Regions from separate parts of the Homo sapiens genome. Here regions 2 and 3 are each linked to region 1. Evidence: fine-mapped expression QTL. A gene starts in region 1. Each other region holds a variant in brackets. All regions are shown on one strand. Distances are between the middles of the regions. Region 1 holds the start of WBP2NL (WBP2 N-terminal like). Region 2 has its middle 35 kb from the start of WBP2NL. Region 3 overlaps LOC105377203 (a long non-coding RNA gene).

Evidence for each region. PIP is the estimated chance that this variant, and not a neighbour inherited with it, causes the effect.
Region 2: its variant is fine-mapped to the expression of WBP2NL in whole blood (TOPMed, PIP above 0.99). The same link has a PIP of 0.9 or more in blood mononuclear cells.
Region 3: its variant is fine-mapped to the expression of WBP2NL in ovary (GTEx, PIP above 0.99).

What each region holds. Positions count from the first base shown.
Region 1 is chr22:41,995,163-42,003,524 of GRCh38, forward strand. WBP2NL (WBP2 N-terminal like) reads left to right here and starts at 3,626. Exons shown (of 6, transcript NM_152613.3): 1 at 3,626-3,718. The coding sequence starts at 3,657. It overlaps SEPTIN3 (septin 3), which reads left to right. Exons shown (of 12, transcript NM_001363845.2): 12 at 1,740-3,059. The coding sequence ends at 1,805. It also overlaps the pseudogene SLC25A5P1. RefSeq lists enhancers at 3,176-3,692, 3,693-4,207, 5,542-6,741 and a silencer at 3,519-3,578.
Region 2 is chr22:42,029,343-42,037,704 of GRCh38, forward strand. It overlaps a transcript of WBP2NL not described here. Among named protein-coding and RNA genes, the nearest start is that of WBP2NL, 35 kb to the left of the region's middle. The variant T/C (reference allele first, on the strand shown) is at 3,322.
Region 3 is chr22:42,138,285-42,146,646 of GRCh38, forward strand. LOC105377203 (a long non-coding RNA gene) reads right to left here. Exons shown (of 3, transcript XR_938280.2): 3 at 7,168-7,254. It also overlaps the pseudogene CYP2D7. Among named protein-coding and RNA genes, the nearest start is that of CYP2D6, 12 kb to the left of the region's middle. The variant G/A (reference allele first, on the strand shown) is at 4,204.

The DNA of each region.
Region 1 (8,362 bases):
CTGGGGCTATAGAGATTCTCCAAGGACAGATGGCAGTGGAGCTAGACCTGAGTAGGGGGCAGGGAGTTCAGGACAACCCTCCTGTAAGTTGGGGGTGGTCTGGGGGTAAGGCTGGGGCTTCCTGGGAAAAGGAAGGCCATGAGAAGGCAGAGAAGTAGGCCAGAGCTGGGTTCTTGCAGAAAGCATCAGTGCCTACAAATGGAGCTCCACCCTTCAGTCTGTGTCGTGTTCAGTGTCACAAAGCTACCACCTGTCACCAGAGCCTACTGCTGCTCTCCACTCAACTGGCCTCTGCTGCCAGGCCACTGCCTGTCTCTGCTTCCGACTTTGTCTTCTTTCTCCCTTTCCCTCCTTCCCTCATACATTGCTTTCTCTCCCTCTCCTGCGTGTCTCTGACATCTCTCACTTCCTTTTAGATGAATCTACTTTAGGTTCATTCCTATATTTAGCATTTATGCCCAGTCTACTTCCAGAAATGACTTTAGACTGCCTTTCACATAAAATCACAAAACTACAGGACAGTACAAACAGATTGCCAGAGAAATCTGGGTCAAAGAAAGGAATAGGAAAGAAAGTTTCTGTAGTCAAGCACCTGAACAGGCCCTGAGCTCACAGGCAGCCAATGTAAAGAGGGAAACACAGTGAGTTATGCAGTTCCCAGTGTCCAGTTAAAGGAAGCACACATGCTAGTCATGTGAGACAACCTTTTATTGGGACATCAGGTTCTAGAACTAATTCTAAAGAAGTATCAGAAACAATATACATAATTTGTCTTTCTTAGTAATTTGGCTTCAAAGACAAATTTTTGACCACACCTCCGTTTTCTCCGTCAGACTTCTCTCCCTTCTAAGCAGGCTTCTCTGTTGCTCCATTTGCTTCATACATACTTGACCTCTCTTTTCTATTCCCCATCACTTTTGTGCTGAAGCTAATCATATTTATGTCTGTCTTTCTCTACTTTTCCCTAATTCCCTCTCCTCCTGACTCCTGTAGACATTCCCAATGATACCCACCGTCATACATTTAGGCTTTTCTTGCCTTTCCCTGAAGCCCTGTATTTATTAATGCATATATTTCCCCTGCTTGTTGTACAAGTAAGTTACTCTTTTCCTTTAATCTGTAAGATTCATGAAATTCGGGGCCAGGGAAACAGTTTAGCCTTAGGGAAGGGAAAACACTAAGTGAAACTGTTTACAATAACCTCATACAACCTTCTGTCCCATCTCCTGGTTCAGCCTAGGTGTTTCACTGGTCCTCTATGAATCCCAGCACTTATAATCCCAGTCTTTTATCACTCAGGTGCTAGGAAAAAAAACATAGACTCAAGACCCAAGATTCAATGGACCAGGAGAAAGGGGGGCGGTGATCAGGTCACCAGTGACCCCAACCTATGCTCTCGGTCTTTCCTGGAGGCTGCCAACCCAGCCCTCATCCTCCCTTGCTCACAAAGTTACAGGGTAGGCACCTGTCAGGACAGAACAGCAGCAGCGCTACAGCCCAGAGGTTATACATTTCAACAGAACAGGGATCCTTGGCTACTGTAGAAGCAGTCCTGTATGGAGACCTTGGACCAGCAGGGGAAGATCTATGGGCATGGGAGGTGGGCGTTGGAAAGGCTGAGTAGGAATGGTGCCTGGCACCCCTGAACCATGATCTGAGCCTCCCTGGAGAAGGTATTTTATATGTCTGCTGCCAGCTGCTGGTCTCCACACCCTCAACCGTTCTCAACCCCCCTGCAGGGAGAAGGCCTCCTGGGCACTGTCCTTCCACCTGTGCCAGCCACCCCCTGCCCCACTGCTGAATGAAGGCCATTTCAAGCGCTGCTTCTCACTCCATTCCTCTCAGCTGTTATTGCTGCAGGGCCAAGCCCTTTTTAGTGCTGTGCTCGTCCAGCTCACCACCACAGCCCCTCTCAGCCCTCAGTAGGTGGGAGGGGCCAGCTGCCTCTTTAGGCCAGTTGCATCCTCCATTTATCCAAACCACTCCTCTCCTCCCAGTGGAGTGGGGTTCTGCCAGTACAGCCCTACTGCATCATCTGCGTCAGCCGGTCCTAGCCCATCTGCAGGGTGAAAGAACTCATCAAGAGCTCCTTCTGCCCTTGTAAGCCCATCCCAGCTACTTGTAACCATCTCTAAGGGCAATGGCATTGCTCCCTACCCATTCATCTGCATGAGCTACTCTTGGCTTCCTTAAAGGGTCAAGAAAGCAATTTTTCTGCTTACTAGATTCATTGAGATCAGCTGTGTGAGCCCCAAAGTGGGACAAGGGTGTCTCCTTCATTACTTAAAGATATTCATGAGGGTGGGTCACTACAGATGTTGGGGAGCAAGGGCTAGGATCACTTTTTAAAAAATCACCACTTGTGGCTGTCCCAGAGTGCGGTTGTACATCCTCCCCACCTCATAACGCAGCCACTGAGGAAGAGTGGTTTTCCTAAGAAGACATTGCTGGAGTTGACTTTCTTCTGTCCAAACAAACAAACAAAAACTAAACACACACACAAACCCCCAGAAACCCACAATATGTACACGCTAAGGAAAAACTAGCACCCTTCTGTCCACTCAGCAATAAGAGGGATCTCTTCCCACCTACCCTACCTACTCCTACCCCCAACCCCCTTCCCCATTAATGTGAGTAATGAATTAGCCTGACCACAGGTGGTCACTGTAGGCTAATGGAAAATACCCAAGGGAGGGCAAAGCCCCCCATCAGATGCATGAATGTTTGCGAATGTTGACTGCCACTGCCCCACACACTGTGTCTTTATAGAATTCCCCTTTGCCCACCCTCTTCCTGTCTCCACCTGGACACAACTTGCTCAAAGGCTGGTGACTTGTGGGCCATTCATCTACAACCAAGTCCTGATGGAGCAAGAGGCCCACGCCTAGGGGATGCAAGAACAACCCGTTTCTTAAATGTTACCAGTCCCAGCCAATCTTACGGTGACATTACAGTTAAATTTCCCAATTGAAAACAAGCAAACAGACACTCAAACTGGTCCTGTAATTGTTGCTAGACTTTATGTGTTGTACAACTAAACATTGCTGTTTGAACAGTAACTGCCTGGCCTGTCTTATTTGTGCTCCTTGACCAAATCAGCCATTATGTCATCTCACCCATGTGTGGAGGGTGAGACTCTCTTGGTAAGAAATAGCCACAGATATTAGAGATGAAAACACTTTGTGAGGTCAGTTCATCTTCAGTTGGCGTCAGGTCGGGCCTCAGTCATTATTTTCTAGTGTTTCATAACCAAAGTGAGTAATGGATGGGAGGTTGAGGTGGGAAGATGGCTTGAGCATGGGAGGTTGGAGGTGCAGTGAGCTGAGATCATTCCTGACAGGACCAACCCAAGTCCATACCTAAAGGCAGGGGGCTAAGGGGGCAGGTGAGGTCGGGAGGCCACTCACCTATCACTCACCCCTTCGCGCTCGAGCCAATTCTCAGGGCCCGCCTCTTTCTCCCCTTTCTCGGCGGGGGCCTCTACCCTGACTCCGCCCCGCTCCCCGGGCACTGCCCCACCACGTGACCCGGTCTCGCTCCTCCTCCTCCTCCTCCTTACGTCATAATCTCCGCCCTCCCCTTCAGAACCGCGCCCCACAGCTCGGCGCAGGTCCCGCCCCTTTCCATCTACGGGGCGGCAGGAGGCCCGAAGCAAGATGGCGGTGAATCAGAGCCACACCGAGAACCGCCGCGGAGCCCTCATCCCTAACGGTGAAAGGTGCCTGAGGGGAAGCACGGCGTGCTGTCGGAGGAGAGGAGACGAATGAGATAGACATGGCGGCTCGCAAACTCTCAGCGAGTCAGGGACTTTGCCGCCTTTTTTGGGCGCGGCGCTCTTAGCTCCGCCCCCGACCTTTGGGAGCGCGCGCCCCTCACTGGTGTTCCGGCATGTGGAGGTGGCGGAGGCCGGAACGCGTGGCCTCGCGCGTTTGAGGGGTGGGGGTGGGAATGCGCCTTTTCAAGGCGCGGGGCCCAGACGCATGTCTCCTCAGGGCGGGGCGGGGAGGGGGTGCGAGACGCGTGTGTCCTTCGAAGAGAGGCCGGAGCTGACCGGCGGTTGTGAGCAGCCGGGGGCCTTCGGTGGCAGCGTGGCTGCCCTTGGGTGCCTGCGACTTTGTTGGATGAGGACAGGTACTGGGTGTGTATCTCCTCCTACTTCCACGAACAAGGTGTCGCTCTTTGGTAAGAGGGATGAGGAGGTCGAGTGTGGATCATTCTGGAAAGATCTCAAACTGTTGTGGGGCTTCTCCTTGGACCTGGAAACTTTCTAAAGCCATGTTTCCTCCTTGCTCCAACCAGGGAGATGTCTGCTTTTAAAAACAAAATTGAAAAAATTGAGGCCAGGTGCAGTGGCTCATGCCTCTTATCCCAACAGTTTGGGAAGCTGAGGTGGCCCAGGAGTTTGAGACAAGACTGGGCAACATAGTGAGACCCCATCTCTACAAAAAGTAGAAAATTAGTGGGCCATGGTGGTGTGCACCCATAATCCCAGCTGCTTGGGAGGCGATGGTAAGAGGATTGCTTGAACCCAGGAGTTTGGGCTGCAGTGAGCTCAGATTGTACCACTGCACTCCAGCCTGGGTAACAGAGCCAGATCCTGTCTTAAAATAAAAGATGGGACTGAACAGATGCCTGGGCACAACAAAGCACTGTTGGTCGCAGGAAGCTGTGGGGCTTACACCAGTTGCTTTGCTCCTTGCGGTGCCTGCTGCTGGCCCCTGAGCTCTCTACTGGAGCAGACTCAGCCAGAGGGGTGCCCATCTCCACCTTCAAGCACACTTGTTCACTAAGGCCTGACTCCACTGCGCTCACCTCTTTACCCCACACGCCCCCTTTCCCGTTTCCTACACTCAAACTCAGTCTCCCCCGCTGTGCAGTTCTAAATTGCGCTCCTTTCTGGGCTCTGACTTGCCCTCAATTTCCTTTTCTCCCAACCAGCATTGAAACTCAAGCTGGATGATGTGCTTGGGGCCAGCACACTCAGGTCAGTTTGAATGTAGTTGTCAGGAAGATCGAAGTAGACGTTACCAAATGCTGATATCCAGGTCTTTCTTCTATCTTTCCTTCCTCCAGAAAGTTTTCTTGACAGATTTATATGGGCCTTAGAGGTTGTATGTTCTCACCTGCTTCCTACGTACCTCTGCTGCTTTGTTCCATTTTGTGGTAGATGATTGCTCACCACTCTGACAGTGGTGTCCCCGTGAGCACTTACTGAGAGCCATTTGAGCACTTGTCATTCCATGGTGTGAAGCCTTTCTTTTCTTTTCTTTTTTCTTTTCTTAAGATATTTTTATTTCTCCAAATTTGTTATTTATTAGGAGTGACTGAAATAAAAAACATAATTGAGTCCCATCATCATCATCATCATAGAAATGGCTTTAAGAGAAAACTGGTCAGATGACTATTATTGCTTCCCATTTCCAACCAGTGAATAGTTGCCACTGATAAATTGACAGCGAGGAGTCTGTCAAGAATGCTCAAGATAGCCGGGCGCGGTGGCCCACGCCTGTAATCCCAGCACTTTGGGAGGCCCAGGTGGGTGGATCACAAGATCGGGAGTTCAGGAGCAGCCTGGCCAATATGTTGAAACCCCATCTCTACTAAAAATACAAAAAAAAAAAAAACAGCCGGGAGTGGTGGCGGATGTCTGTAGTCCCAGCTACTCAGGAGGTTGAGGCAGGAGAATTGCTTGAACCCAAAAGGTGAATCACCCAAAAGGTGAACCAAAAGGTTGAGGCAGGAGAATTGCTCCACCAAAAGGTGGAGGTTGCAGTGAGCCGAGATTGTGCCACTGCACTCCACCCTGGGCAATAGAGGGAGACTCCGTCTCAAAAAAAAAGAATGCTCAAGATATGTCATATAATACAACATGCCTGTTCAAAGGGGGAAAAATCTTAGGAAATAACTTACATGTACTTCTTGGTTTCATCATACAAGACAAGCACAAAAGCACCACCCATGCCTCTGAGAACACTGGACCATGCACCCTTGAAAACAGCTTTGCTTCCTTCATCATGAGTAATCTTCCTCCAGCAGTCAAATGTGCCTGTGTACATGATGTCAGTTCCTTTGCATCCTGACTGCATCATCATGTAGCAGCAAATGGTGTTAAATGAATAGGAAGTCAACCCAGCAACGGCAGTGACAGTCTGTGCATCATCCAACTGATGACAATGTGAGTGTTCTTGGGATCCGGAAGCATTCCCTTTGCAGTGTCATAGTTACCGAAGTAGGCAGCAGGCAGCTCGGTAGATAATACCCTGCACAGACACGTTAAAGCCTTGGTACAGGCTCTTAATCCCGTCAGATTTGTAGATCTTAACTAGGCAGTCACCGAAACCTCGCAATTCCCTTTCAGCTCCAGCTTTGCCCACATCAGCTGCTACACGAGTATGGGCAAAATCAAGAGGGTACACAAAACACAAGGATGTGGCCCCAGTGGCACCGCCTGATGCCAGATTCCCTGCAAAGTAGCGCCAAAACTGGGATCTCTTGTCCACACCATCCAGGAAGATCTGCTTGTATTTATCTTTGAAGGTGAAGTTAAGAGCCTGGGTGGGGGAAGTATCTGATGACACTGGCCAGGTTACCGCACCAGGACAGGACTCCGTGCTCCTTGGGAATACAGACCATGCAGTCTCTAATGCCCTTGTATTGCTTATCTGCAGTGATCTGCTTGCTGGCATGCTGCACCTGTAGCAGCAGCTTGACCCGCTCGATGGGTGCTACCGCCATCTTGGAGATGGCTGCGGCCACTCCACCTGCCAGGGAGTCCTTGGCGAAGGACACAGCAGCCTCTGTGATGTCGAAAGAGGAGGCAGGCTGCTGTGGGATGGGACTGGTCCGAGAATCGGCTTTGACTCCGGGGCTGATTGTGAAGTCATTTCTAATTTGGTGTTTGGGTGTCTTCTCACTCGGGCTATGGGTGTCTCTCTACTTCACTGCTTGTGTGTTGGAGAAAGGGAAGGAAGCATGTTTTAAAAAACAAAACACAGAAACACTGATTTTTGTGGTCCTTTGAATTACCTTTATGGGATCCATTTTGTGCTCCTGAATACTTAATAGCATTTATCGAACACTATTTCAAGTACTGTTCTTAGTTCTAAGAGCTTTATACTGTAGTTAAAACCACTTTACCAGCCAGGCGTGGTGGCTCACGCCTGTAATCCCAGCACTTTGGGAGGCCAAGGCCAGTGGATTACATGAGATCAGGAGTTCAAGACCAGCCTGGCCAACATGGTGAAACCCCTGTCCCTACTAAAAATACAAAAATTAGCCAGGCATGGTGGTGCACGTCTGTAATCCCAGCGACTCAGGAGGCTGAGGCACGAGAATTGCTTGAGCCTGGGAGGCAGAGGGGAGGTTGTAGTGAGCTGAGATCATGACACTACACTCCAGCCTGGGTAACAGGGTGAGGCTCTGTCTCAAAACAAAACAAAGTAAAAAAACTCAGTCTATCTACAGTGAAGATCAGTACTGTTTTCCCTCATTTCACAGGTGGGAAAACAAAAAGAAGTCATTTGCTTAAAGCGCATGTGGGAGAGCTTGGATTTGGATTTGAACTTAGGTACTGTGCATAAACTCCTGTACTCCAGCTGTCCCTCTAGAAAGAAAAGGACTCTTTCTCTGTTTTCTTCTCACCAAAGAAGATCCTATTAGTACCCTAGCTTCCTGGATAGAAACTACTTTAAAGAACCAGAGATAGTGGTGCACATCTGTAGTCCCACCTATTCGAGAGGCTAAGGTGGGAGGATCACTTGAGGCCAGGAGTTCAAGACCACGCTGAGCAAAATAGTGGGACCTCATCTCACAGAATAAAATTTAAGAAAAGAAAAAAAAGAAACTATAGCCAGGCATGGTGGCACATGCCTGTAATCCCAGCTGCTTGGGAGACTGAGGCAGGAGAATCGCTTGAACCCAAGGAGGCAGAGGTTACAGTGAACAGAGATCACGCCATTGCACTCCAGCCTGGGCAACAAGAGTGAAACTCCATCTCAAAAAAAAAAAAAAAGTGCCAGCTTATGAGGTAATTACATTGGTTCTCTCCAGAGGGGTAACCTGCCAAGAAGAGATGCTATAGATGTTACTCTTATACTGTAAAACATTGTGAAATCAGATTGCTTAAAAATGATGTATTACAAAGTTATGGAAAAAAGCAGTTGTGACTATGGAAGCCCAAGGCTTATATCCTAGCTCTGTCTTACACTAAATGTGGGTACAGTGTTTCCACTTTTTGTAAAATGGGAGCTAATATCCTCCAACCTGTGTGCCTGACATGGTGATTAAAAGGATTAATCGAAACAACAGTTTGTAATTTATTCTGTCAGAGCAAACTGCTGATAAATAAAAGGGAGTAAGTTGA
Region 2 (8,362 bases), 34 kb after region 1:
CCCAGAAGACATTTAAATCAATATATTTTCTATGCATTTTTTTTTTTGAGACAGAGTCTTGCTTTATCACCCAGGCTGGAGTGCAGTGGCACAATCTTGGCTCACTGCAACCTCCACCTCCCAGGTTCAGGCAATTCTCGTGCCTCAACCTCCTGAGTAGCTGGGATTACAGGCAGGTAAAACCATGCCCAGCTAATTTTTTTTATTTTTATAGAGATGGGGTCTGGCCATGTTGGCCATGCTGGTCTTGAACTCCTGGCCTCAAGCAATCCTCCTGTCTCAGCCTCCTGAAGTGCTGGGATTACAGGCATGAGCCACTGCGCCTGGCCTTCTATGCATATTTCTTATATGTAGTTGAAATCATGCTATATAATGTTTCACCAGATATTTTACATTTTCATAGGTTTTGAAGAAATGCTTGTAAATATTGTTAGTGACCACATAATATTCTGTGACACAGTTACACCATAACGTATTTTCTCAGTCCCTCTTTTAAGGTATTTGAATTGTTTCCAGGTTTTTGTTATTACAACTTCATGATTAACTTCTTTGTATATGGAGCTTTTTAAAAGTTTTAAATGCTTTCCTTAACACAGCTTAGAGTCATTGATTGATCTGCATTGTGAAAATTAGGAAACCAGATGCTCCCATGTTCTCAAGGACAGCCTTTCTTAAGGAAGTCAGGTAGATATTAATGGGTTTTATGTGAAATGGAGTAACTGGGTTAAATATAATTGAAAAAGACAAGAAAACTGGTTTCTTTACTACTTCTTAGAGCCTTGACTATACTAATGGACATAATCTCCAAGAAGGAGAGATTTTCAAAATTTACAGTTTTTTCAAAATTATTTGATTTTAGAATATTCAGTAAACATTTTGTTCAGTGGAAGAAACTGAGAAACACTTTCTGGAATTATGGGATATTAGAATTAGAATGGACTTCAGGTATCTGGAGTATGCTAGACCTTAAAGCTCTTTCCAAAAATGAAGACAAGTCAAAAGACCATTCTTCCTTCCATTCCAAATAAAAGAGCTTTATATCCAATTTACAGAAAGCAGGGTGGGACATCTTGAAGATAAAATATATAGAAAGTAGCTGCTGCTTCCTCTCAGAAATTACTGGGATAGAGTTATGGGTCTAGGAAGCTGGAATGTCAAAACACAGGGACAGCCACTTTGCCCAGGCAACTGGCATGAAGGGAAGAAGTGAAAAGGGAAAGTGTGGCTGTAAACCTCTCTAAAGTTTCCAAACAGGGAATCCAGGCAATATTGGATCTTAAACATGGGTCATAGGATCTGGCGCTTTTATCCCTAAAATTTTTGGAGGAAAATAACGAGATATTTTAAGTTTCTTCTTTTCTTACTTCCAAACTACAGTACGTGGGCAACAGTGATGAGAGGAAGAGAGGAGAGACTCAACCAACTAGAGCAGGGATAAGGTTTCCCTTGTTCAGCTTTTCAGTGTCTGCTGGAATGTGATGGTAAGTTGAGAACAGGGTGAATGGGTGAGGCCTTTTTTATATCAGAAAGTTTTCCGAGTAACTGATCTCTGGCAAATATTTGGGGATTAGAATTCTAAAAGAATACAAACTAGACTTCTCTTCTGCTCTTCATGTTAGTTATACTTGTACCAGGTAGATTTGAGGTGGGGTCCAGTTACCTGAAAAGCGTAGCAGGTTCGAGTTTCTTAAAGGTGGAATTCCACCATGTTCTCCTGTGCAAAGGGTACCTGTTTACCTGGTCCACCAAACTGCCCCAGTACAACCAAAGGCTGTGACTGTGTAAGGATAGAACCAAGTGGAGCCACAGTTTGGACCCACGTGGTGCTGCGTGGCACACCTACTGTTAGTTAGCTCCCACTGTCTGGTACAGTTGTTTCCCCCAAAGGCTCAGTCCAATTTGTTCTATAAGAAGAGCTTTGTGTCCTGTATATTCAAAGGACCCTGGTTTTTGCTTTGCTGAGGACAAATCCAGTCAGAATTCAGCTGAGCCTTCTGCATGCTGAGAGCACTCATGTGCTGAGTTCCTCAGCTCCTCACTGACGTTTTGAGTACTTTCTTTCTGACTCACTCACTGTGCTGGTGGATTCCGCTCTTCCTGTCTCTTCCCCAGCTGCAATACAGAAACTATACTCTGTTGTCTACTCTTTCATTTCCTATTAGAAATATAAAGGGATAGAAATAAGAAGACCTTTTAGTCCTGGACTATCTGGTATTGGCCCCTAAAATGAGCCTCCAAATACTCCTTTTCATGGGTAAGTGGATGCTCCCCAGCCTGCTGGAGCAGAACCTTCCTGGCTCAGCTACCCTGAGATATCAGGACAAAAACATATAGTTGGTGTGATTTTCCTCTTTTTGTTTTTTTTTTTTTCAAGATAGAATCTGGCTCTGTCCCCCAGGCTGGAGTGCAGTGGCGCGATCTCGGCTCACTGCAACCTTTGCCCCACAGGTTTAAGCGATTCTCCTGCTTCAGCCTCCTGAATAGCTTGGATGACAGGTGCCTGCCACCATGCTCGGCTAATTTTTGTGTTTTTAGTGGAGACAGGGTTTCACCATGTTGGCCAGGCTGGTTTCGAACTCCTGACCTCAAGTGATCCACCCGCCTCGGCCTCCCAAAGTGCTGGGATTACAGGCATCGGCCTGTGCCTGGCCGATTTTTCAATCCATAGATTAATATGTTCAAGAAATATTGCATGTCTTTGTTTTCTGTAAATTTATTTCTGTTACCAAGATCCCCACCACCATCTGCTTTGTTGGTGGGCTTCTCACAAATCCTAAGATTATGCAAAGGTATCCAGATTTTATTTGGCACCAAGATGCTGAGAAGTTTCTTCTGGTCATCAGACTGCTTCTGAAACAGCCACTATCCAGTCCTGGCAGTCCCGTCAAGTCTAAAAGCTTGTTGCCTTGGGACCCCAGAATCTTAGGTAGGGCTTAGAACCAGGGTGTCAGAGATCCAACTCTGTGTACCATATTGCTCCTTAGAACTGGGGAGTAGGACCCCAAAGGCCTCCTTATCCTTGAGAGTCTGACAATTCCTTAAACTTCCAGATTCTGCCCTCTCAGCTGTGCTGTTGGTCTGCATCACCTCTATCTCTTAAGCATCTATCCTAATCCAAATCTCAGGATTTGGGTTTACCCAAAAGGTAATAGAAAGCCTTTGCCTTCATGTTGACTTGGCTTTCCTTGCCTAGCACTTGGTTGCTTGCTTGAAAATCATGTATGTATATATATAAAATGTAGAAGCCCAATTCAAATTAATAATGTAAAAATTTATTCTGTTACACAGATTACCTCATTGTCAGGTAGGAAGTGAAACGTA[T/C]GATATTCTTCCTGGCCTTTGCCTTGAGAGTCTTCTGGAGCCTGAAGAGGGTGGGGCAGACAACCATGGACTGCTAGAGAATAAACTTTCTTTGAAGCTTCCTAAATGGATTAGAAAGAAGGGGTTCTGTCAAAGGGAAAGGGTCTATACAGATGTGACCAGCAGTTTGATTAGTTTAGATGTATGATTTAGTAGCCAATATAAGAAACTTGTAATTTTTAGTAATTAGAATTTATTATAAATAATAAAACAGGGTATTAATTATTAATATTATGGTATCTTTGGGGTGTCACTTTTCTGGCCAGAAACCTCTGTGGACAAGTGGCACCTCTGCCCAAGTATTGCTTGGGCCCACTGGGCTCATTCCACCCACCCGGCCTGACAGGCTGCACTTGGCTCATGCTACTGGCCTGGATCCCATGCCTGCCAAGGGAGATTGCATGGAGTGACAAGGGGTGTGTGGGGAAGTGTGGGGTCTGGCTATTTTTCAGTCAGATGTGCCAGCTGCTGCAGTGGGGTGGTCAGCTCCAGGTACCAGCATGGGCACCAGCTCTCCACGAGGCTGCAGCTGGACCAGTCGCACTCCAAGCAGCTTCCACAGCTGGCACCAGGGAAAAGGTGGTGCCCAGAAGCTTGGAGATGCCAGGAACCATAGGGCCCCAAAGAGGGAGTCACAGCCCTGGCTTGGAGAGCTCCCAGGTCTGGGCTTCCCAAAGGGCTGCAGCTCTTCTTTTCTTCTCTTTGCCCACAACATGTTGAGCAAGGGGCATGTCTCAACCCTGTTTGTGTTACAGGTCTTTTAGCCTCATTTAGTGGGTCCAAAGTTCTTCAATGAGGTGCACAGACAAGTAGAGGGTGAGCAATGAGAATGAGGTACACAGACAAGTGGAGGGTGAGCAAGACAAACAGGAGCTATTGAGTGACAATAGCTCAGAGGAGGCCTTGGAGTGGGTAGCTCCTATCTGCAGGCAGGTCTTCCTGTCATCTCTGTGGCTCTCAGCAGAGAGGAGGCCCTGGAGTGGGTAGCTCTTCACTGCAGCTCATTGTGCTGATGTCTGCTGCTCTCAACAGAGAGGGGTCCTGGAATGGGTAGCTCCTCTCTGCAGCTGGTCGTCCCAACATCTGCTTAGCTCTGGCTGAGCCCAGGGATTTTATGGGCCTCAGAGGGGAAGAAGTACATATCGATTGGTCCATATGTGGCCATGGGCAGGCCCAGAAAAGCCATCACAAGTTCTCACTCCAGTCCATGGGACTGGCATCCTGGCCCCCAGCTTTCAAGCCCTCCCTGGCCTGAAGGTGTGACGTCACCAGGGACCCATCCCCTTCTACCCAGGAACCTGTCTGCCTCCTTCCGTTGATGGTACCCAGGCTGTAGGTGCCAAGCCAAGCTGCCCTCAGCTCCCCTCAGTTTCCTTCTATGCTCATTGTGCCCAAAATCTGGAGGGGGCCAGGGCGGCAGGGGGCTGGTGTGTCAGCACTGCCCAACTTTGCTCTGAGATCAGAGAAGGCAGGGAGAAGCTAGGCAGTAGGAACAGGCATTTCCATGCCTGCAAGGGCAAGGGGGTATCGGGGGACCTGCCCCAATAATCACGTAGGTTCTTTTCTATTTTCCTAAGCGTCGGCTGACTTGAGAAATAAAAGGACAGAGTACAAAAGAGAGAAATTTTAAAGCTGGGCATCCGGGGGAGACATCACACGTTGGTAGGATCTGTGATGCCCCACAAGCCACAAAAACCAGCAAGTTTTTATTAGGGATTTTCAAAAGGGGAGGGAGTGTGCGAATAGGTGTGGGTGACAGACATCAAGTACTTAACAGGGTAATAGAATATCACAAGGCAAGTGGAGGCAGGGTGAGATCACATTGCTAATGAAGTTTCAGGCACCATTGTCATTGATAACATCTTATCAGGAGACAGGGTTTTGAGATCACCCGGTCTGACCAAAGTTTATTAGGCGGGAATTTCCTCTTCCTAATAAGCCTGGGAGCGCTATGGGAGACTGGAGTTTATTTCACCTCTGCAATCTCGACCATAAGAGACAGGTACGCCCCGGGGGGGCCAGTTCAGAGACCTACCCCTAGGTGCGCATTCTCTTTCTCAGGGACTTTCCATGCTGAGAAAGGAATTCAGTGATATTTCTCCCATTTGCTTTTGAAAGAAGAGAAATATGGCTCTGTTCTGCCCGGCTCACCGGTGGTCAGAGTTTAAGGTTATCTCTCTTATTCCCTGAACAATTGCTGTTATCCTGTTCTTTTTTCAGGGTGCCCACATTTCATATTGCTCAAACACATATGCTGTACAATTTGTGTAGTTAACGCAATTATTACAGGGTCCTGAGACGATACACATCCTTCTCAGCTGACAGGATTAAGAGATTAAAGCAAAGACAGGCATAGGAAATCACAAGGATATTTACTGGGGAAGTGATAAGTGTCCATTAAATCTTTACAATTTATGTTTAGAGACTGCAGTAAAGACAGGCATAAGAAATTACAAAAGTATTAATTTGGGGAACTAATAAATGTCCATAAAATCTTCACAATCCACATTCTTCTGTCATGACTTCAGCCGGTCCCTCCGTTTGGGGTCCCTGACTTCCCGCAACAAGGGGGGCCTTCCTGGGCCCCCAAGAGTGCAAGGATGCCTGGGTCTGCAGCCACGGTTTGGGCAGCTGGAGCTGTGCCTGGGAGGGTGGAGCTCCCACCTGCCCCTCTGGGCCCTGAGAGCACAGGGATGCCTGGGTCTGCAGCCACGGCTTGGGCGGCTGCAGCAGCATCCAGGAAGCTCTCACCCCAACTTGGAAGGGGCGGGTCTCGCGCTTGTCCCTGGCTTTTGCCTTCTCCATGGAGCATGCAGCCCTGGCCATGCCTAGTTGCTGCAGCCAGCGTGATGGCAGCAGCTGCTCCAGATGGCCTGCTGCTGCCATCATTAATATGTAGCTATTAAACACAGTTGGTGAATCACTTTTTTGTCTCTTAAATTATTTTGCAATAATTTAATATTTATGACATACAAAAATTATATATATTTAATGTATACAACTGAATGTTTTTGTGAAACATTGTGAAATGACCATCACATTCCAACTAATTAACATATCTATTACCTGTATATAGTTACCATTTTTATACCCTTTGACCAACATCCTCCATTTCCCCCTCTTCCCAGCCCCTGGCAACCACCATCCTACTTTCTGTTTCTATAGTTTGACTATTTTAGATTCTACATAAAAGGGAGATCATGCAGTATTTCTCTTTCTGTGTCTTGCCTATTTTGTTTAACATAACTTCCTCCAGCTTCATTCATTTTGTTACAAATGGCAGGATTTTCTTTTTTAAAGGCTGAATAATAGTCTGTTTTGTATGTGTGTATAATCACATTTTCTTTATCTGTTCATCACTGAAGGACATTTAGGTTGTTTCCATATCTTGACTGTCGTGCAAAATGCTACAGTGAACAATGGGAGTACAGATATCCCTTTACTATCCTATAGGATTGTTTGATCATATGTTCTATTTTTTTTTTTCTTTGAGACCAAGTCTCGCTCTGTCGCCCAGGTTGGAGTGCAGTGGCGTGATCTGGGCTCACTGCAAGCTCTGCCTCCTGGGTTCACACCATTCTCCTGCCTCAGCCTCCCGAGCAGCTGGGACCACAGGCATCTGCCACCATGCCCGGCTAATTTTTTTTACTTTTAGTAGAGATGGGGTTTCAGCATGTTAGCCAGGATGGTCTTGATCTCTTGGCCTTGTGATCTCCCCGCCTCGGCCTCCCAAAGTGCTGGGATTACGGGCGTGAGCCACCGTGCCCGGCCATGTGTTCTATTTTTAATTTTTTGGGAACCTTCATACTTTTTCCATAATGGCTGTATGAATGTATATTCCTAACAGCAGTGTACAAGGGTTCTCTTTTCTCCACATCCTTGACAACATTTGTTATCTTTTATCTTTTTGATAATAGCCTAAAAGGTGTGAAGTGATATCTCATTATGGTTTTGATCTGCATTTACCTGATGATTACAAATGTTGAACACATTTTCATATGCTTATTGGCCATCTGAATTTCCTTTTTTGAGAAGTGTCTATTTTGGTTCTTGGCCCATTTTTTAATCCAGTTATTTGTATTTTTAGCATTGAGTTGTATGAGTTCCTTATATATTTTGGATATTAATCCCTTATCAGCTATATAGTTTCCAAACATTATTTTCCCATTCTGTAGGTTGCCTTTTCATTTTTTGGATTATTTCTTCTGCTCTGCAGAAGCTTTTTAGTTTGATGTAATCCCACTTGTCTATTTTTTCTTTCATTGCCTGTGCTTTTGGTGTCATATTGAGAAAATTATTACAAGACCAATGTCAAGGTTTTCCCAATGTTTTCTTCGAGGAATTTTGCAGTTTCAAGTTTTACATTTGAGCCTTTTGTCTATTTGAGTTGATTGTTGTGTAGTATGAGATGGGGTCAGATTTCATTTGTGTGTGTGTGTGTGTGTGTGTGTGTGTGTGTGTGTAGATACCCAGTTTTTCCAGTACTGTTTATTGAACAGATTATCCTTTCCCGATTGTGTGTTCTTAGCACCCTTGTCAAAGTAAGTTGTTCATTAATATGTGAGTTTATTTCTGGGTTCTCTGTTCTGTTCCATTTTGTCTGTGTCTGTTTTTATGCCAGCACCATACTATTTTGGTGATAGCTTTGTAAGATAGATAATTTGTAGTCAGGAAGTGTGATGTCTCCAGCTTTTTGTTCTCGTTCAAAATTGCTTTGGCTATTCAGGGTTTTTTGTAGTTCCATATGAATTTTAGGATTTTTTTTTTCTATTTTTATAAAAAGTGCAATTGGGATTTTGATAGGGATTGCATTGAATCTGTAGATTGCTTTAGGTAGTATGGACACTTAGACGATATTAATTCTTCCAATCTGTGAACATGAGATGTCTTTCCACTTATTTGTGTTTTTATTCCATTTATTTGTGTCAGTTATTTTGCTGAGTCCCGTAAATTCCTAAGTATTTTAAAATTTTTGTTGCTAAAGTAAATGAGGTTGCATTCT
Region 3 (8,362 bases), 140 kb after region 1:
ATGGAGGGAGAGGCGTGTGCGGGAACCTGGGTTGCTCGCGGGCCAGCACCAGTTCTGGGTGGGCAGGGGCTCAGCGGGCCCTGCACTCGGAGCGGCCGGCTGGTGCCTCTGGCCCCAGGCAGTGAGGGGCTTAGCACCTGGGCCAGCAGCTGCAGAGGGGGCACCGGGTCCCCCAGTACTGCTGGCCTGCCGGCGCTCACCACACTTGAATTGTCGCCAGGCCTCAGTCACCTCCCCGCGGGGCAGGGCTCAGGACTTGCAGCCTGCCATGCCCAAGCCTCCCTACGGTGGGCTCCCTGCGAGGCCCGAGCCTCCCGGATGGGTGCCTCCCACTGCTCCACGGCACCTGGTCCCGTCCACTGCCCAAGGGCTGAGGAGTACAGGTGCCCGGTGTGGGACTAGCAGGCAGCTCTGCCTGTGGCCCTGGCATAGGATCCACTAGGCGAAGCTGGCTGGGCTCCTGAGTCAGGTGGGGACTTGGAGAACTTTTATGTCTAGCCAGAGGATTGTATATGCACCAATCAGCACTCTGTGTCTAGCTCCGGGTTCGTGCATGCACCAATTAGCACTCTATCTAGCTAATCTGGTGGGGACTTGGGGAACCTTTATTTCTAGCTAAAAGATTGTAAATACACCAATCAGCACTCTGTGTCTAGCTCAAGGTTTGTAAACACACCAGTCAGCACCCTGTGTCTAACTCAAGGTTTGTAAACGCACCAATCAGTGCTCTCTGTCTACTCTATCTAGCTAATCTAGTGGGGACTGGGACAACCTTTATGTCTAGCTAAGGGATTGTAAATACACCATTCAGCACTCTGTGTCTAGCTCAAGGTTTGTAAATATACCAATCAGTACTCTGTGTCTAGCTCAGGGATTGTAAATGCACCAATCAGCTCTCTGTAAGTGGACCAATCCACTGTCTGTAAAATGGGCCAATCAGCAGGATGTGGGTGGGGGTCAGATAAGGGAATAAAAGCAGGCTGCCTGAAGTAGCAGCGGCAACCTGGTTGCCATCATTCTTTTGCTGTTTGCAGTAAGTCTTGCTGCTGCTGCTCCCTCATTGGGTCCACACTGCCTTTATGAGTTGTAACACTGGAAGGACTGCAGTTTCACTCCTGAGGCCAGTGAGACCACAAACCCACCAGGAAGAATGAACAACTCCGTACGTGCAGCCTTAAGAGCCGTAACACTCACTGTGAAGGTCTGCAGCTTCACTCCTGAAGCCAGCAAGACCACGCACCCACCAGAAGGAAGAAACTCTGAACACGTCTTAACATCAGAAGGAACAAACTCTGAACACACCATCTTTAAGAACTGTAACACTCACCGTGAGGGTCCACGGCTTCATTCTTGAAGTCAGTGAGACCAAGAACCCACCAATTTTGGACACAAGGTGACAGGCTGAGGGCGGTGGCTCGGTCCTGGGTTTTCCTGGGGCCTTCCCAGGGAATGTTCTGGCACCTGCCGACTGAGCCCTGGGAGGTAGCCCTGGCATATAGCTCCCTGACATGATTTGTCTTCCATTTTGGGGTGTCATATATGAAGGGAGGTGACTGTTGTGATGGTGCTGGCAGGACTGCTGTCCCTGATGTGGGGTGGGCTGAGTTAGGCCTGAAATATGGGCCTCCAGGCTGAGTCCTGCCCTCTCCACCACATCCAGGGCTGACTGACACCTCTAGTCAGCCCATTCTGGCCCCTTCCCCACATGCCAGGACAATGTAGTCCTTGTCACCAATCTGGGCAGTCAGAGTTGGGTCAGTGGGGGACATGGGATTATGGGCAAGGGTAACTGACATCTGCTCAGCCTCAACGTACCCGTCTCAAATGCGGCCAGGCGGTGGGGTAAGCAGGAATGAGGCAGGGGTGGGGTTGCCCTGAGGAGGATGATCCCAACGAGGGCGTGAGCAGGGGACCCAAGTTGGAACTACCACATTGCTTTATTGTACATTAGAGCCTCTGGCTAGGGAGCAGGCTGGGGACTAGGTACCCCATTCTAGCGGGGCACAGCACAAAGCTCGTAGGGGGATGGGGTCACCAGAAAGCTGACGACACGAGAGTGGCTGGGCCGGGGCTGTCCGGCGGCCACGGAGAAGCTGAAGTGCTGCAGCAGGGAGGTGAAGAAGAGGAAGAGCTCCATGCGGGCCAGGGGCTCCCCGAGGCATGCACGGCGGCCTGTGGGGAGGGGAGGGGCGTCAGTGAGCCTGGCTCCTGGGTGATACCCCTGCAAGACTCCACGGAAGGGGACAGGGAGCCGGGCTCCCCACAGGCACCTGCTGAGAAAGGCAGGAAGGCCTCCGGCTTCACAAAGTGGCCCTGGGCATCCAGGAAGTGTTCGGGGTGGAAGCGGAAGGGCTTCTTCCAGACGGCCTCATCCTTCAGCACCGATGACAGGTTGGTGATGAGTGTCGTTCCCTGGGCAGGAGATGCAGGGTGAGAGTGGGGACTGGACTCTAGGATGCTGGGACCCCTGCCACCAAACACACGGGGGACACACACTGCCTGGCACACAGCTGGACTCTGTCAACTAGTCCTGCGCCCGAGAAGCTCCACAGTACCCTCTCCGACCCCACAGCAGGGCGCAGTCACACCTCTCAGAGGCACCCACACTGCCCCCTCTCCCTGCAGGCGCTGGGTCCTCCAACATTCTGGCAGGTCCTGATTTGTCTTCCCCACTAGACGGGGGCTCTGGATGGACAGGCCAGCCCTGCCTATACTCTGGACCCCCCATCCAAGCGGGGACAGTCAGTGTGGTGGCATTGAGGACTAGGTGGCCAGGGTTCCTAGAGTGGGCCCACCTGGCAGTAGCCATGCTGGGGCTATCACCAGGGGCTGGTGCTGAGCTGGGGTGAGGAGGGCGCCAGGCCTACCTTAGGGATGCGGAAGCCCTGTACTTCGATGTCACGGGATGTCATATGGGTCACACCCAGGGGGACGATGTCCCCAAAGTGCTGCACCTCGTGAATCACGGCAGTGGTGCAGGGCATGTGAGCCTGGTCACCCATCTCTGGTCGCCGCACCTGCCCTATCACGTCGTCGATCTCCTGTTGGACACGGACTGGACAGACATGCGTCCCCACAATGGGTCAGCACCCAGGGGACACTCTCCTTCCTCCTGTGTTGGAGGAAGTTAGGCTTACAGGAGCCTGGCCACGCCTGTGCTGGAAGCCCCGGGTGTCCCAGCTAAGCCCAGGGGCCCCCAGCTGTACCCTTCCTCCCTCAGTCCCTGCCTTGGGCCCCAGCTGGGCTCACGCTGCACATCCAGGTGTAGGATCATGAGCAGGAGGCCCCAGGCCAGCGTGGTCGAGGTGGTCACCATCCCGGCAAGGAACAGGTTACCCACCACTATGCGCAGGTTCTCATCATTGAAGCTGCTCTCAGGGCTCCCCTTGGCCTGAGCAGGGCCGAGAGGATACTCAGGGGATAGAACGGGGTAGCCCCCAAATGACCTCCAATTCTGCACCTGTCAGCCCAGATGCGGCTCGCCGGGTGATGCACTGGTCCAACCTTTTGCCCAGCCTCCCCTCATTCCTCCTGGGACGTTCAACCCACCACCCTTGCCCCCCACCGTGGCAGCCACTCTCACCTTCTCCTTCTTTGCCAGGAAGGCCTCAGTCAGGTCTCGGGGTGGCTGGGCTGGGTCCCAGGTCATCCTGTGCTCAGTTAGCAGCTCATCCAGCTGGGTCAGGAAAGCCTTTTGGAAGCGTAGGACCTTGCCAGCCAGCGCTGGGATGTGCGGGAGGACGGGGACAGCATTCAGCACCTACACCAGACAGAACGGGGTCTCAATCCCTCCTGTGCTCTGCGTTCACCTGGACCAGTCTCAGGCCCCAGCCATCTCCAGGAAGACCCAGGGCCTGCCTGTCCTTACCACTGACCTCACCAAGTCCCTCCCCAAGTGCCAGCCTCCACCCTCTCTCTCCTTGCCCAGAGGAGAAACCTAAAATCGAAATCTCCAACGTGGACGGGGGTACAGAGTCCTTGGCCTCTCCTGGTGCCCCCTGACCCGGGCACACCTCTCCCACGACCATGTCTGAGATGTCCCCTCCTCCTCCAGGCCCTTCTTACAGTGGGGTCTCCTGGAATGTCCTTTCCCAAACCCATCTATGCAAATCCTGCCCTTCGGAGGCCCCAGTCCAGCCCCGGCACCTCTCAGGAGCTCGCCCTGCAGAGACTCCTCGGTCTCTCGCTCCGCACCTCGCGCAG[G/A]AAGCCCGACTCCTCCTTCAGTCCCTCCTGAGCTAGGTCCAGCAGCCTGAGGAAGCGAGGGTCGTCGTACTCGAAGCGGCGCCCGCAGGTGAGGGAGGCGATCACGTTGCTCACGGCTTTGTCCAAGAGGCCGTTGGGGCGAAAGGGGCGTCCTGGGGGTGGGAGATGCGGGTAAGGGGTTGCCTTCTCCGTCCCCCGCCTTCCCAGTTCCCGCTTTGTGCCCTTCTGCCCATCACCCACCGGCTTGGTCGGCGAAGGCGGCACAAAGGCAGGCGGCCTCCTCGGTCACCCACTGCTCCAGCGACTTCTTGCCCAGGCCCAAGTTGCGCAAGGTGGACACGGAGAAGCGCCTCTGCTCGCGCCACGCGGGCCCATAGCGCGACAGGATCACCCCTGGGGGCGGGACGGGCACGTGGGCGTTGCCATGAAGGCCTTGGCCCCACCCTCCGCCACCCACTCCAACCCTGGCGCTCCACAAGGTCTCCCGCAGTCCCTAGCCCGGTCCAGCTGGGCACAGGGCCCACTCTTTGCTCACCCACATTGCTCCCCTGCCTGGGGCGGGGTTTGGCCCCACCTCGTCTCTGCCCACCCTGACCACCTTTCCACTCAAGGAAGATCCCGCCCGTCCCGCCCACACTGAGCCCGCAGCATAGGCGCGGTCCCCGCCACCGCCACTTCGACGCATCAGCCTCGCCCACCGGGCTTCTGGCGGGTCTGGGCAGTAGCCCCGCCCCCTCCCAGCCCACAGACTCGCACCTCCCCCGTGCAGGTGGTTTCCTGGCCCACTGTCCTCAGCCCACTCGCTGGCCTTTATCTCTGTTTCACGTCCAGGACCCCACGCCCTGTCGGCGCTGCTTGGGCTACGGTCACTGTCCACCCGGGGCCCACGGAAACGCGGTCTCTGTCCCCCACCGCCGCTTGCCTTGGGAACGCGGCCCGAAGCCCAGGACCTGGTAGATGGGCGCAGGCGGGCGGTCGGCCGTGTCCTCGCCGCGGGTCACCATCGCCTCGCGCACGGCCGCCAGCCCATTGAGCACGACCACCGGCGTCCAGGCCAGCTGCAGGCTGAACACGTCCCCGAAGCGGCGCCGCAACTGCAGAGGGAGGGTCAGGGCCTCTTGTCAAGCCAGGATCACCCCAGACTACAGGTCCTAGTCCTATTTGAACCTTGGACGACCCCCGGGGCTACCAGGAGTGAGCAGGTGGAAGGAGGAGACCCAGCCTCCTGATCGTGGGGCGGGGGTGGGGGTCACACCTTCTGTGATGGAGGAACTCAGTTTGGATGCGTCACCCAGGTATGACCTTGCAAGAGTCACCAAAATTGCCGAGAGGCCCCAGTTAGCATCCCATTCCCAGATGATGGTCCATGCCGGTGAGCAGTGAGGCCCGAGGACCCACAGTGCAAAAGGTTTGAACCGGGTCACTGCACCCCCTTCATCCTCGATTTCGTGATTTAAACGGCACTCAGGACTAACTCATCTTCCATTCCCAAGGCCTTTCCTTCTGGTGTCAGCAGAAGGGACTTTGTACTCCATAACATATGTTGCCCAATGGGCTTGCATGCCCACTGCCAAGTCCAGCTCCACCTCCAGGCCCTTGCCCTACTCTTCCTTGGCCTTTGGAAAATCCAGTCCTTCATGCCATGTATAAATGTCCTTCCCCAGGACGTCCCCCAAACCTGCTTCCCCTTCTCAGCCTGGCTTCTGATCCAGCCTGTGGTTTAACCCACCACCCATGTTTGCTGGTGGTGGGGCATCCTCAGGACCTCTGCCGCCCTCCAGGACCTCCTCCCTCACCTGGTCGAAGCAGTATGGTGTGTTCTGGAAGTCCACATGCAGCAAGGTTGCCCAGCCCGGGCAGTGGCAGGGGACCTGGCGGGTAGCGTGCAGCCCAGCGTTGGTGCCGGTGCATCAGGTCCACCAGGAGCAGGAAGATGGCCACTATCATGGCCAGGGGCACCAGTGCTTCTAGCCCCATGGCTGCCTCACTACCAACTGGGCTCCTCTGGACACACCTGGCACCCCCACCCCACCAGGCACAGAGGACCAGGCAGGACACTCTCGGCACACCGAGCGCGTGACCCTTCCCTTATAAAGGGAGCTGATGATGGCCTTCGCCCTCTGCTGTGAGTGAACCTGCTGTGTTGACTGTGCTGCCAGTGGCAGAGTCAGGCCAGGGCAGGTATGGGCTGCTCCAGAGGTCCTTGCCGCTGCTTCCTGCTCCAGGCCCTTACCCAGGGTAGGGTGGTAGAAAGGCCTGGTCGGAGAAGTCACCCCCTCTCCCCACTCCAAGCTCCCCAAGCCCACACAGGCTTCTGGGATAACCAGGGTCTCAGTGGACCCGGCCATCCACCTCCCAGCTAGGCTCATACACCCTAATGTAGTCACAACCCCTCCTCCAGAACATGACCTTGCCCTTTCCCTACCCCCACCTGCCCACTCCAGAGTGACCTTCAGCACCCTTATCTGTCACTGGCACTTACCTGGGGCCTTAGAGCTCCTGATGATGAGTGGCATCATGGGCCTGGTCCCTTCACTTCACCTTGCACTCTTGACATGCACAGACGCTATGCACACACCTGATGGTGCACAGATCTCTTGTCCACTCCCAGACACTTGTCCACTTGTTCACACTTGCAGGGACACGATTACACATGCAGAAAATCACCCACACAAAGACAATATTCACACATACACAGACTCACACTGACACTCAGGGCACACATTCTCTCTCACACACACCAGTCACACACACATACAGACCCGGCACCAAGTACCCCACTTCCCAGCCATGCCCGAGGTTTCCTGGATGGGACCTCTCCTGTCCAGAGGCTGCTCCCGGTGAGCCTCAAAGCTGTCACATGGATCCCAGCTCAGCCCACATTCTGGGCTCTGGCCGGGCCATGACTTCCTGTTTGCAACAGGGCTGTTCCCAGAGCTCCCAGTTGGTAGCCTGAAGGCCGTTGCCCCAGCCTGTGACAGCATCCTCCAGGGCTGCCTGAGGGTCGTCATTCTCCACTGCTTCCTGGCCTCCATGTTTCTGATTAGAAATCTGGTGGAAACATTATGGAGGATCCTTTATTTAGGATATGTTGCTTTTTTATTTTTATTTTTTCTTTAGACAGGGTCTCACTCTGTTGCCCGGGCCGGAGTGCAGTGGCAGGATCATGGCTCACTGCAATCTCAACATCAAGTGGACCTCCTGCCTCCCAAGTAGCTGGGACTACAGGCACCACCGAGCCCAAATAATTTTTTTTTTGAGACGGAGTTTTGCTCTGTCGCCCAGGTGGGAGTGCAATGATGCGATCTCGGCTCACTGCAACCTCCACCTCCAGGGTTCAAGCGATTCTCCTGCCTCAGCCTCCCAAGTAGCTGGGATTACAGGTGCCCACCACCATGCCTGGCTGATTTTTTGTACAAGAAGTTTATAGAACACCAAGCAGATTTAACCCAAAGAAGACGACCTCAAGGCATCTGATAATTAAACTCCGAAAGGTCAAGGATAAAGAAAGGATCCTAAAAGCAGCAAGAGAAAAGAAACAAATAACATGCAGTAGAGCTCCAATACATGACATGGGGCAGCCACCTTTCCAGTGGAAACCTTACAGGCCAGGGGGGAGTGGCATGACATATTTAAAGTGCTGAAGGAAAAAAAACTTTTAGCCTAGAATAACGTATCTGGCAAAAATATCCTTCCAACAGGAAGGAGAAATAAAGACCTTCCCAGACAAACAAAAGCTGCGAGATTTCATCAACACCAGACCTATATCCCACAAGAAATGCTAAAGGGAGTTTTTCAATCTGAAAAAAAAAAGGATATTAATGAGCAAGAAGAAATCATCTAAAGGTACAAAACTCACTGGTAATAGTAAGCACACAGAAAAACAGAGTATTATAATACTGTAATTGTGGTGTGTAAACTACTCTTATTTTAATTAGACTAAATGATGAACCAATCAAAAATAATAAGTACTTTTCAAGACAGACAGTACAGTAAGACATAAAGAGGCCGGACCCGGTGGCTCACGCAGGTAATCCCAGCACTTTGTAAGGCTGAGGTGGGTGGATCACCTGAGGGCAGGAGTTCGAGACAAGCCTGGCCAACATGGTGAAACCCCATCTCTACTAAAAATACAAAAAATTTAGCTGGGCATGGTGGT